Homo sapiens: one gene and its partners. The protein of the gene in region 3 interacts with the protein of the main gene of each other region in a biochemical or structural test. Each region holds a gene or a part of one and is shown on either strand. Other genes may lie near its edges.

Region 1 (3,657 bases), on a different chromosome or scaffold from region 3:
ATTTTTTTCTCTGAATCTGTTATGAACGTGTTGGTTGGCTAGGTTCAGTAATAAATATGTGAGACCTTTCATTTTTTAAAAAAAAAATCATCCTTAACAATCCCAGTGTCCTGGAAGAAGTAAATGATTCAACTTTGGATATAGTTACCAGGTCTATTGCTAACAGAAGTAAAGATGAAGAAGGTATGCAAAAATATCATAAGAGAAAAACTATTCCATGGCAACCAGCCCTGCCTCAATAACAAAACAACATCAAGAGGACTGAAAGAGGAGGAGGAAGGTACCTGCTGTTTCATGTTTTTGAGGCGACCTTCCAATTCTAGGGCCTAGAATCATGCTGTGAACATTGTGACATTTAATAAACATTTGTTGAATGAATCTGGCCACTCTCCTTTAAAAAATTTTTTACTAATTATCCACTCAATGTGCTAAGCATTACAGGAAAAAGAGGATAAATAAAGCCTGATGTAATGGAGAAAAGACACTTAGAATGTAAATAACTGGCAACGCGGTGGCTCACACCTGTAATCCCAGCACTCTGGGAGGCCGAGGCAGGTGGATGACTTGAAGTCAGGAGTTCAAGACCAACCTGGCCAACATGGGGAAAGCCCATCACTACTAAAAATATAAAAACTAGCCAGGCGTGGTGACACACATCTGTAATCCCAGCTACTCGAGGCGCTGAGGCAGGAGAATCACTTGAACCAGGAGGCAGAGGTTGCAGTGAGCCGAGATCATGCCACTGCACTCCAGCCTGGGCCACAGAGCAAGACTCCATCTCAAAAAAAAAAAAAAAAAAGGAACGTAAATAACTGTAACATTACATGTAAAAATTATGAAAGAGATACCCTAACTGCCTTCGGGACTAAAGGATGTCATGAGTTGACAACTACTTAATAGTTTTTAAATCTGAACTACTAAATCTTAATGAGTAATCATAACATTCATATTCAATTTTTAAACTACTAGTAAAGTTTGTTTAGATAATGCTACAATCTATACATTTGTAACATCCACTAGCAGGACCTCATGTCTATCAGAGCGGACACAGTATTCTTCTTCTCCTAGGGCATGAAATGCTTAACTACATACTCAAGTAATAACTACAGTTTAACATATCTATTCTATGATATAAATAGTAGTACACACAATTATGAATTTTAATACACAACCAGTTCATCATATTCTCCTGCTATCTCAAGCAAAGAATTTCTAAAATCAGTAAAAATCAATAGCAGGGAGCTATATAGAACACTGCAGGGAATAATACTATCATGGCAGCAAAAATACAATTAATGTAGATTAAAGATAACTGCAAATTCTTTGTTACTCTCCCATTGAGAAACAGTGTCTAAATAAATGCCTTTCCCTTGAATCTGGCTGACCTTAGTGATTTGAGTGGGCAACAGAATTACAGACGTGACTTCCAAGGCTAGGTTGTAGGAGACTTGCTATTTCCACCCAGGTTCTCTTGGAACACCTATTCTCTCTGTGATCCCTGAGCCGTAAGTCTGAATACCCTGGGGTCTCCATGCTGACATCACATGATGAAACCACTAAGAAAGGCTCTGAGACTATATGGAGACACTTGCCCCATCCAGTCTCATCTCACCTGACAACTAGCTGTTCCAGCCCCCAGCCACTTGAGTCATCTCAGCTGAGGCCCCACACACCAAGAAGCAGAGGTGAGTCTAATCCACAGAGCCCTGTCCAAATTGCAGATTTATAAACAAAATAAATGGCTGTTGTTTTAAGTCACAAAATTTTGAGGTAATGTATCAGATAATCAGAATTACACAATGCTTCCAAATCCTTGACTAAAGATAAAAGGAAATCATTCAATCTCTCTTTGGGGGTGTTAATACAGATTCAGTTAGAGTGGAACAGTCATCCAATTGCTACAATTAACAGACTTGAATTGAAGAGCTGACCAAGCTACCTTTAATGATTTTGGTATAAAAAAGAAACACTATAAACTCAAATATCAGAAAGGAGGAAGGGGAAAATATTTGTACAAATTACCCTTATCCTTTTGATATTAAGCTTCGGGTTCTGTACGAGCACTTTGTTTTGCTACAAGGTGAGACTGGGCTAAAGGAAAGCACCCAATCAGATTTCTGTTACTGGTTAAAGGATGGTCCTTAACCATTTTGAGGAATCACGTACCCCTGATGAGACTATGGGTCCTTTCTCCTATTTAAAAAAAATATATATATATGGCTGGGCTCACGTCTGTAAACCCAGCACTTTGGGAGGCCAAGACGGGCAGATCACCTGAGGTCAGGAGTTCGAGACCAGCCTGATGAAACCCCATCTCTACAAAAAATACAAAAATTAGCCAGGTATGGTGTCATGTGTCTATAATCCCAGCTACTAGGGAGGCTGAGGCAGGAGAATCACTTGAACCCAGGAGGCAGAGGTTGCAGTAACCGAGATCACACCACACTGTACTCCAGCCTGGGCAATTGAGCAATGCTCTATCTTAAAAAAAAAAAAATACGTATGCACAAATACTCACAAAACACTCCATACAATGTAAGCGAACTTTCAGTCTTTATGGTCTATGGGCCTTAGGTTTAGAACTTATTTTAAAGGATTATTTAATAATGGTACACAAATCTACTAGATGATGTTGGAATTGTTAAAATTATAAAGAAGTGGGTTTTTTTGTGTTTTTTTTTTTTTTGCCAGGCACGGCACCTCACGCCTGTAATCCCAGCACTTTGGGAGGCCGAGGCGGGCGGATCACAAGGTCAGGAGTTCGAGACAGCCTGGCCAATATGGTGAAACCCTGTCTCTACCAAAAATACAAAAAAATTAGCTGGGCATGGTGGCTAATTTTTTGTGACTCCGTCTCAAAAAAAAAAAAAAAAAAAAGTTTTTTGTTTTTTTTCCTTTTCTTTTTTTTTTTTTTTTTTTTTTGGGACAGAGTCTTGCTCTGTCGCCCAGGCTGGAATGCAGTGGCATGATCTCCGCTCACTGCAACCTCCACCTCCCAAGCTCAAGCGATCCTCTCGCCTCAGACTCCCAAGTAGCTGGGATTACAGGCATGAGCCACCAGGCCCAGCTAATTTTTGTATTTTTAGTAAAGACGTGCTTTCCTCATGTTGGCCAAGCTGGTCTCAAAGTCCTGGCCTCAAGTGATCCCAAAGTGGTGGGATTACAGGCGTAAGCCACCCTACTCAGCCATTAAGAAGTGTTTCACTCAAATTCCAAAAACAATCATTTTTTCATTAATCAATGGAGGACCCAGCAATTGAAGTCTTGTGTGTATTTAATGTCCACCGATTTTAACCTTGTTATTACTCAATTTCACTATTTTAACACCAGACAATAACCTTCTGAGAGCTGCCTCAGAAAACACATCACTCTAAAATAACTTGATTCAAATTAAGGTTGTCTTCTTAGGACAGTGGTTTAGTCTCATGCTGATATTAAACAGTACAGGATTTGGAGATTCTTGTTCTCACTTATAAACCTCTTAAGATTAAGGGTTCAGCTTTATAACTCTTTTAAGTCTTTAGCACTCAACACTGAACTTGTACTGGGTCTTCTTTGTTTTGAGTCAGGGTCTCTATCGCCCAGGCTGAAGTACAGTGGCATGATCTTGGCTTGCTGCAACCTCGACCTCGCAGGCTCAGGTGATCCTCCCATATC
Region 2 (3,657 bases), on a different chromosome or scaffold from region 3:
TTGCCTTTTGCAATTTCTTTTTTCCAGATTCCTTTAAGCCTCCCCAGCGATCTATTGACAAACCTTTTAGATTATGTGTGTCCGATGTTTTCAAAGGTAAGTGCTACCTTTGTAGTGCTTCTTCAGTATAGCCCCTTTTCCCCATTCCCTCCTAACCTCCTTTCCTGGACTAAGTTATGACAGTATATTGCCTTCAGAGTCTCTCCTCTCCATGCCCAAGTAAGGATCACTGTCAGATTAATCTTAAAATGCACAGATTTAGTCACTTAGCTTCCCTGTCCAGGAAAACCTTCAGTTTACTCACCATTTCTCATCTTTCAAGCATAAGAAAACCTTGCCTTTTGTCTTTCTAACTTTATAGTTTTTTTTTCTCCCATTAGATTCCTTTAGTTTTCAAATCCTTCAACCAAACTGGATTGTTTATTGTTTCTTAACCACACAGGATGTGTTTATTGCCACATGTCTACCCGTGCTTCCCTGTTGTATTGTTCTTTCTCTTTACTTGTCCATTTCCTCCCCATCTGTAACAGTCTGGGTCCAGTTAGGAGTTAGATACCATACATAGGTGAAATGGGAAATGTAATATAAAGAATTATTAACTATGATAAAAATGCAACTAAAAGATATACAGAAACTTTATAGATAGGGCTGAGGAAGGACCAACGTAGAAGAGGTTCAGAGCTTGCTGGAAGAGATGATATATTAAATACCTAAGAATATATCTAACTTAATAAGGGCAAGATCCTATATAGAAGACTATAAAGTGGAAATACAATTTAAAAACTCAATAAATAAAAGGATATAAGATTTATTATTACAATAATAAAAACTGTAAGGATGTCATTTGTCCTCTAAATCTCCATTGTCACAGAGCCAGCAATGCAGAGTGAATGTGGAACTGAGCAGCAGTAAATTGGTAACCGGCGTGCTTACCTGCGCACATGCCCTGACGCGTCCCTCTGTATTCTCTGTATCCTCTGTCATTGTGCTTTCATGCAGCATTATAATTTTTTCTATGCTGTCTGTTTATCCCACTTAGATTATGAACTCCTTGAAGGCAAGTACTATCTCTTCTTTATCTATATCTGCGGCCCTAGCCCAGTGCCTGGCACATAATACATTTAACACATGAATAAAAAAATGAATGAATGAAGGTGCTTTGAAAAAATCATGCAATGAAATCAAAATTTATCATTATCATTATTAGCTTCCAGTGTTCTAGTAATAGAGGAAATATGCTAATAGTTTCCAAGATGCCCATTGTTTATCAAGAATACAAGAGGTGGTTACTTTTCTTTGATTAACAGTGTTTGCTGACTGTACTTTCTCACCTTCTGTTCCCCCTTCAGGCTGCTTCCTGGCTTCCGCCTACGCTGCTCTCCTGAGTGTGTTCCTCCTGAGGTCATGAAATGACCTCTTGGTTGCCAAAGTCAATATACACTTTCAATTCTATCTTACTTGAATTTGGCATTGGTTCTGATGCTGGTAGCCACATCCACCTTGAAACTCCTCCCTTGGTTTCTGTGACCTGCTTTCTCCTGTTAACCTGTCTATTTCTCTGACCTGTCTATCTCTGACCTCTCTATATCTTCTCTATGGGCTCCTCATTCTCTGTCTTTTAAACAGTGTTCTGCTGCCTCAGTCCTCTTCTTAGTCTTCAAGTTCCTTTTGAACTGACATCCATGAGTGTCTCTACCTTCTGCATCTTGATGCTTCCCAAATCTGTATCTCCAACCCAAACCTTTTCACTCATTCTCCACACACTTGTCTAAGCACTACTGGACATCTCTCCTGGGAGAGTGTTCTTTTAGGGGTACCATTCTCATGGAATGTGGTGTGATTGGTCCCCCCGGAATGCAACTTCTGCATGTGTGTGTCTCATAGACACTTCAGATTTACCAAGCCTAAAATGGATCTTGTCCTTAGTTTCATATCTCACAGTTAATGCATCATCATCTCACATTTTCCCCTTTCTGTCATTAGTCTTCACTTTCCTTACCACTCCAAACTTGTTATTCCTTATTCCCGAATTCTTGAGTTTATTCCCTTTCTGTAGTAAGTTTGTGCATTTGTATCAGCCTCTACTCTAAGACAGAAATACCATCACCTTACTTCTCCGGTCACAATATTTACTGGCTTCCTATTACTTAACTGCAGGATGAAATTTAAACCCTAAGCGTGATTTATGAGACCCCTTTATTATTTCTCCCTTGCCTATCTCTGTTGCCTCCTGTCTTACCTTTTCTTCATTATTCTATATGGTCCCCTCCCCATGGCCCCCACAAGTGACACATGACTCTTAGCCCATCCCACATTTGGTTATGCCTTTGCCCACACAGTTTCCTGGGGCAGCAGTGTCTTCCTTTTTCTCCCTACTCATGCATACAAGCTACCTAATAAACACTTATTCCTTCTTCAGAGTGCCAGATGTCTATTCTCACCATCATGGATTCTTTGGTGCACCTTTGTGTTTCTATTGTATATTTTACATATTATTTGTCTCAGGACAATGTAATTGTTTCCATCTTTCTCTTCACTAGTATAATATCTTTATGGGCAGGGACTTACATTTTTATTTTTTTTTATCCCCAGAGTTTAGTATAATATCTGGTACTACGTATTTATTATTTCTCAATAAATATTTGAGAAAGGAATGAACCTTTCTTTGGTAATATGAGTATTTTTATTTGCAAAAAAAAAAAGTAAAGTGTGGTATGCCATATTTAGTAGAGATGTTAATTCTGAAATGATTATTATTTAATGTCCATTGAACTACTAGTTTTATATGACTACTTGAGAACTAAGTATAGTTAACGGTATTAATCATCAGATAACATTGCTGTATGAACCATAAGATTTTGGTATGTTTTGCAGATCAAGGATCTGGATTTTGCATAACTGGTAAAATAGAAGCTGGTTATATCCAAACTGGTGACCGACTACTGGCAATGCCTCCTAATGAAACTTGTACCGTGAAAGGTATTTATCTGCAAGATGCTTTTGCTAAACAAGCCTTAAGTTGAGACAGCAGATTTTTAAAAAGTGGTTTAGTTACAACTCCAAAGTAAGTAACCTCTTACTGAAATTGTAACTGACTGTCAAAATGATACTGACTGTTGAAGATTAAAATGTGAAAACATTAAACGATTTTTTTCTGTTGTGATTGTGTCTGTATATATATGTACATAAACATTCTAACTGTAGTAGCATTCTATTTTTGACACAGATCTGAGAAGCCTGGTTAGGATTTAATCAGATATGTATAGATACCTCACAGATGTATTTGGAATAATATTCTGTAGCAGAAATTAAATCTAGTCCCAGCCTTACCCTAACTAGTCAGTGGCAAAGCAGCCTTCTACAGTCTGTTACTTTGAAATGTATGTTTCAGAATAACTATAAATTAACAGCTTTGATCATGTTTATGCCAAAAATGTAGGTATATTTTATAGGAAGATATAAGTAACATTCAAATGGAGAAAAACCCAATGTTGAAAAGAGAAATTGAACTAGTTTAAATTGCCAGTCACTGTTTCTGCATATAGATCTAATTTTTTTCATAATGACTGATAATTGTTTCTGTCTTCTAATATATACACACATATATATATTTATGTATATGTATACATGTTATATGTTACATGTACATGTATATTA
Region 3 (3,657 bases):
GTCTACATCTTCAGAATTCTAAATTGACGGTTAACAAAATAGATTATATGATATACACCAGAAGTTAAAATGTAATGGAGTCCTTAAGTTTCTTCCCAAATCTTAATATCCTTTAACAACCATAGATTTTCTCCCATAAGACTTTTTAAAGATGCTATAGCCTTTTGAAAAACTTTGGTAGATTTTACTGTAAAATAGTAAGGGTACACAACACATACGGTGTGAAAATACAACTGAATGGGGAAAACTTGTCATGAATTTTGTTATAAATTTGTTATAAAAGTTTCCCCATTCAGATGAACTGTCACATTGTACATATTGCAAGCCCTTATTATTTTACAATAAGATTTGCCAAAATTTTAAAACAAAACATGTAAAGAAAAATTAGATTAAGATAATGTAAAGGTAAATTAAAATATATGTAAATAATTTTGACAATGATTACTAGCTCAAAATTTCACTTACTTGTATCATAGATTTGTCAGAGTACATTAATTCAATTGTTCGATGGATTCTGGATATGCTTTCCTGCAAATCTAAGGATATAAGGTGTCATTTAATGATTAACAGCAAATGTGTTTCTACTTATAAGATAAGGACTAATGTTTTTCCTACAAACATGTTAGAGGAATAGGAAAATTTTCCTAAAACTTTTCTTAAAAAACATTACCATTTGAAATCTGTAGAAAATGAATTATAGTTATTCTTAATAAAAGACACAGTACAAATGCATACTTTAAAAACAACACAAATATGATTTATCTAGAAAATGTGCAGAGCCAATAAAAGTGAATTTTGTTCAAATCTATAAAGGAGAGTTTCAATGAAAATGAAAGCTAAGCTTCCTTACATATTGCTATAACACAAGTAAACTTAAGAACAAAGTAAAACATGTTCACCACATATCTTGTACACACACATAACTGAATAAAAATCGACTATAATCACCAGTGAAAATAAAATTATGGCACTCCCATGACAATTATTTCTACTTCTAGTAGAAAATAATCCTACAAAATTGTTCAGATAGGGATGTTCACAGTCATATTGTCCACAATAATTTTTAAAAAAGAGATAACCTAAATATCTGTCAATAAGGAAACGGTTAGATTGTAACCACATCATATTGTGAAGCTGCTGAACCAATCAGGAAGAAACCTTGAAAAACTATAAAAGAAACTGGCTAACTTTAGAGTGGGGAAAGACCTGTCTTAAGCCTGTCAGAAAACTAGTAACCTTATAGGAAAAGATAAGATCCTCCCTGCCCAACACTTTAAAAAATCTACATTATAAAAAGAAAACAAAACCAACATAAAATCAAATGAAAAACTGGGAAAATAATATCTGCAGCATATGTGATATTATAGGTAAAGTGTTAATATCCACAATACATTAAACTTTCTATTAAGTAATAAGAAAAATACAAATAGCTCAATACTTAAAAAATGGGCAAATGTCACAAACAAGAAATTTACAGAACAATATAAATATCCAACTTCACTCGAAGCTAAGGGAATGCAAATCAAAACACTAAAATACCAGTTTTTCAATTGTGAAAAACTACTAAAAAGTGTCCAGGGCTAGGGAGGATACTGGGAGACAGGCTCTCTCACACAGTGGGAATGCAAACTGGTTTAATGTTTTGGAGTGACAATTTTAAAACAGTCGTCAAAATTTAAAATATACACACTCTGAACCAGAAATGGTGGACATAAGGAAACAACAGATATTGGGGCCTACATTAGGGTGGAGGGTGGGAGCAGGGTGAGGATGGAAAAACCACCTATCAGGTACTGTGCTTATTACCTGCATGATGAAATAATCTTACACCAAACCCCCAAGACATGTAATTTACCTTTATAGCAAACCTGCACATGTACCCCTGAACATAAAAAAGAACATATCCTACTTACAGAAGTGTATAAATATGTATATCGAAGACCAGCACTATTTAGGAAATATCAATATGGGAATTAAATGAATTACATCATACCCGTGTGTTGGAATATTACACAATAGTTTACAAAATAATGCTAACTGCTAACATCAATATGGATGAAAGAAAGAAAAAAAATATCCTGAGGAAAACCTTCTTTCCTGATCCATAGTATTACATATAAAAATCTTAACAGCCAGGCATGGTGGCTCACGCCTGTAATCCCAGCACTTTGGGAGGCTGAGGTGGGCGGATAACAAGGTCAAGAGATTGAGACCACCCTGGCCAACATGGTGAAACCCCATCTCTACTAAAAATACAAAAATTAGTTGGGTGTGGTGGCACACAACTGTAATCCCAGCTACTTGGGAGGCTGAGGCAGGAGAATCGCTTGAACCTGGGAGGCAGAGGCTGGAGTGAGCCCGAGTTCATGCCACTGCACTCCAGCCTGGTGACAGAGCGAGACTCCGTCTCAAAAAAGCTCTTCAAACTTAAAATGGCCAAAAGAGAACTCATCATATTTCTCTTTCCTCCCCTGAGTGGGAACCTCTTTGCCCACTGCTTTACCTTTTTTCCAAAATACATTCTATTTGGTTATTCATACCATTATGAACTGAGAGAATCATTCGATTCGTCCCTCTCTCTTACCTCTAGCCAATGACCCACATCTGTCAGTTGTCTCCAAAGAGTATTTTAAGTACATTCACTTCTTCCCTCCCTCAATGCCACTACTTAGGTGTCAAAAGCTTCCTAGCTTCCACTCCTCTGAATGTAATCTTTTAAAAACAACCTGCCATGAGGAGTAGAAAATTACCCAACGCCTAATATAGTGCTTCATCAACACTATTTGCTTGATTAATGTTTGTTAATGAGTTCAAATATTTTTAAAAATTCCCTCTTATTTGAAAAATACTAAAGAAAATCTTGACAGCTACTAATGCTGTTAGTCACCATCATACCTTATGTACTTCTTACTAAATTAGGGCCATTCTTTTTCAAATATTGTCTATAAAGAGTTAAGTTGGTCATATAATATCCAACAATCAATATTGTTCAATATAATTCCAACCATGTCACATAGTTCATTTTTTTCAAAAATCAATAAATCAGCATAAAATTGGGGAATGATAATAGGGAATTATATTTTCACATTTAAGGAAAAAAATGTAATAAAATCTACCATAATCCATTTTTTTAAGTACACTTTAACAGCAGCAAAGTAGGAAAGAGAAAAGTTCAGAATAACTTATTCTGAAAAAAAAGAAAAAATAGAATAGAAAAGAATAAAAGAGAGTTCCTTCCAAGAAAGGACAGATGGCAACTTGACACACACACACACACACACACACACACACACACACACACGCACACGCACACAAGTGCACACACCCCACCCAGAGCACTGTCCTTATTTTTCTTATTTTGCTGCATGCCAGTAAAAACTCTGTTACAGACTAGTAATGGGATCATAGATACTCATAAATCTGTTAGAGCTATTAAAAATTAAAATTCACATTTCTAATTCTTAAGCCCAAAGAAAATTTTTTAATCACCGGAACTCCCTGTGCAAACTTAGATTTAGTACCTAATTGATATGTACAAACATTGATATTGTATGACATTTCTCCAATGGAGTAACTGTGAATACCAGTTTGATATAAATTTAGAGCAGCAAACTAGAAAATCAGGCCATCTGCTATGTCATTAATCAGCTAAGCAAT

The links.
Region 1: the proteins of USP25 (region 3) and SUMO1 form a complex in vitro, tested with the Homo sapiens proteins (2 studies listed by BioGRID).
Region 2: the proteins of USP25 (region 3) and HBS1L interact in a test that uses a peptide from one of them, tested with the Homo sapiens proteins (one large-scale study listed by IntAct).

The regions. Positions count from the first base shown.
Region 1 is NC_000002.12:202,231,966-202,235,622, forward strand, and holds part of SUMO1 (small ubiquitin-related modifier 1 isoform a precursor), read right to left. Parts: intron 80-3,657; exon of another isoform or gene 1-79. UniProt on the Homo sapiens protein: Ubiquitin-like protein that can be covalently attached to proteins as a monomer or a lysine-linked polymer.
Region 2 is NC_000006.12:134,981,780-134,985,436, reverse strand, and holds part of HBS1L (HBS1-like protein), read left to right. Parts: intron 1-27; coding exon 28-96; intron 97-2,874; coding exon 2,875-2,979; intron 2,980-3,657. UniProt on the Homo sapiens protein: GTPase component of the Pelota-HBS1L complex, a complex that recognizes stalled ribosomes and triggers the No-Go Decay (NGD) pathway.
Region 3 is NC_000021.9:15,827,410-15,831,066, reverse strand, and holds part of USP25 (ubiquitin carboxyl-terminal hydrolase 25), read right to left. Parts: intron 2,727-3,657; coding exon of another isoform or gene 2,716-2,726; exon of another isoform or gene 2,382-2,715; intron 537-2,381; coding exon 466-536; intron 1-465. UniProt on the Homo sapiens protein: Deubiquitinating enzyme that hydrolyzes ubiquitin moieties conjugated to substrates and thus, functions in various biological processes including inflammation and immune response.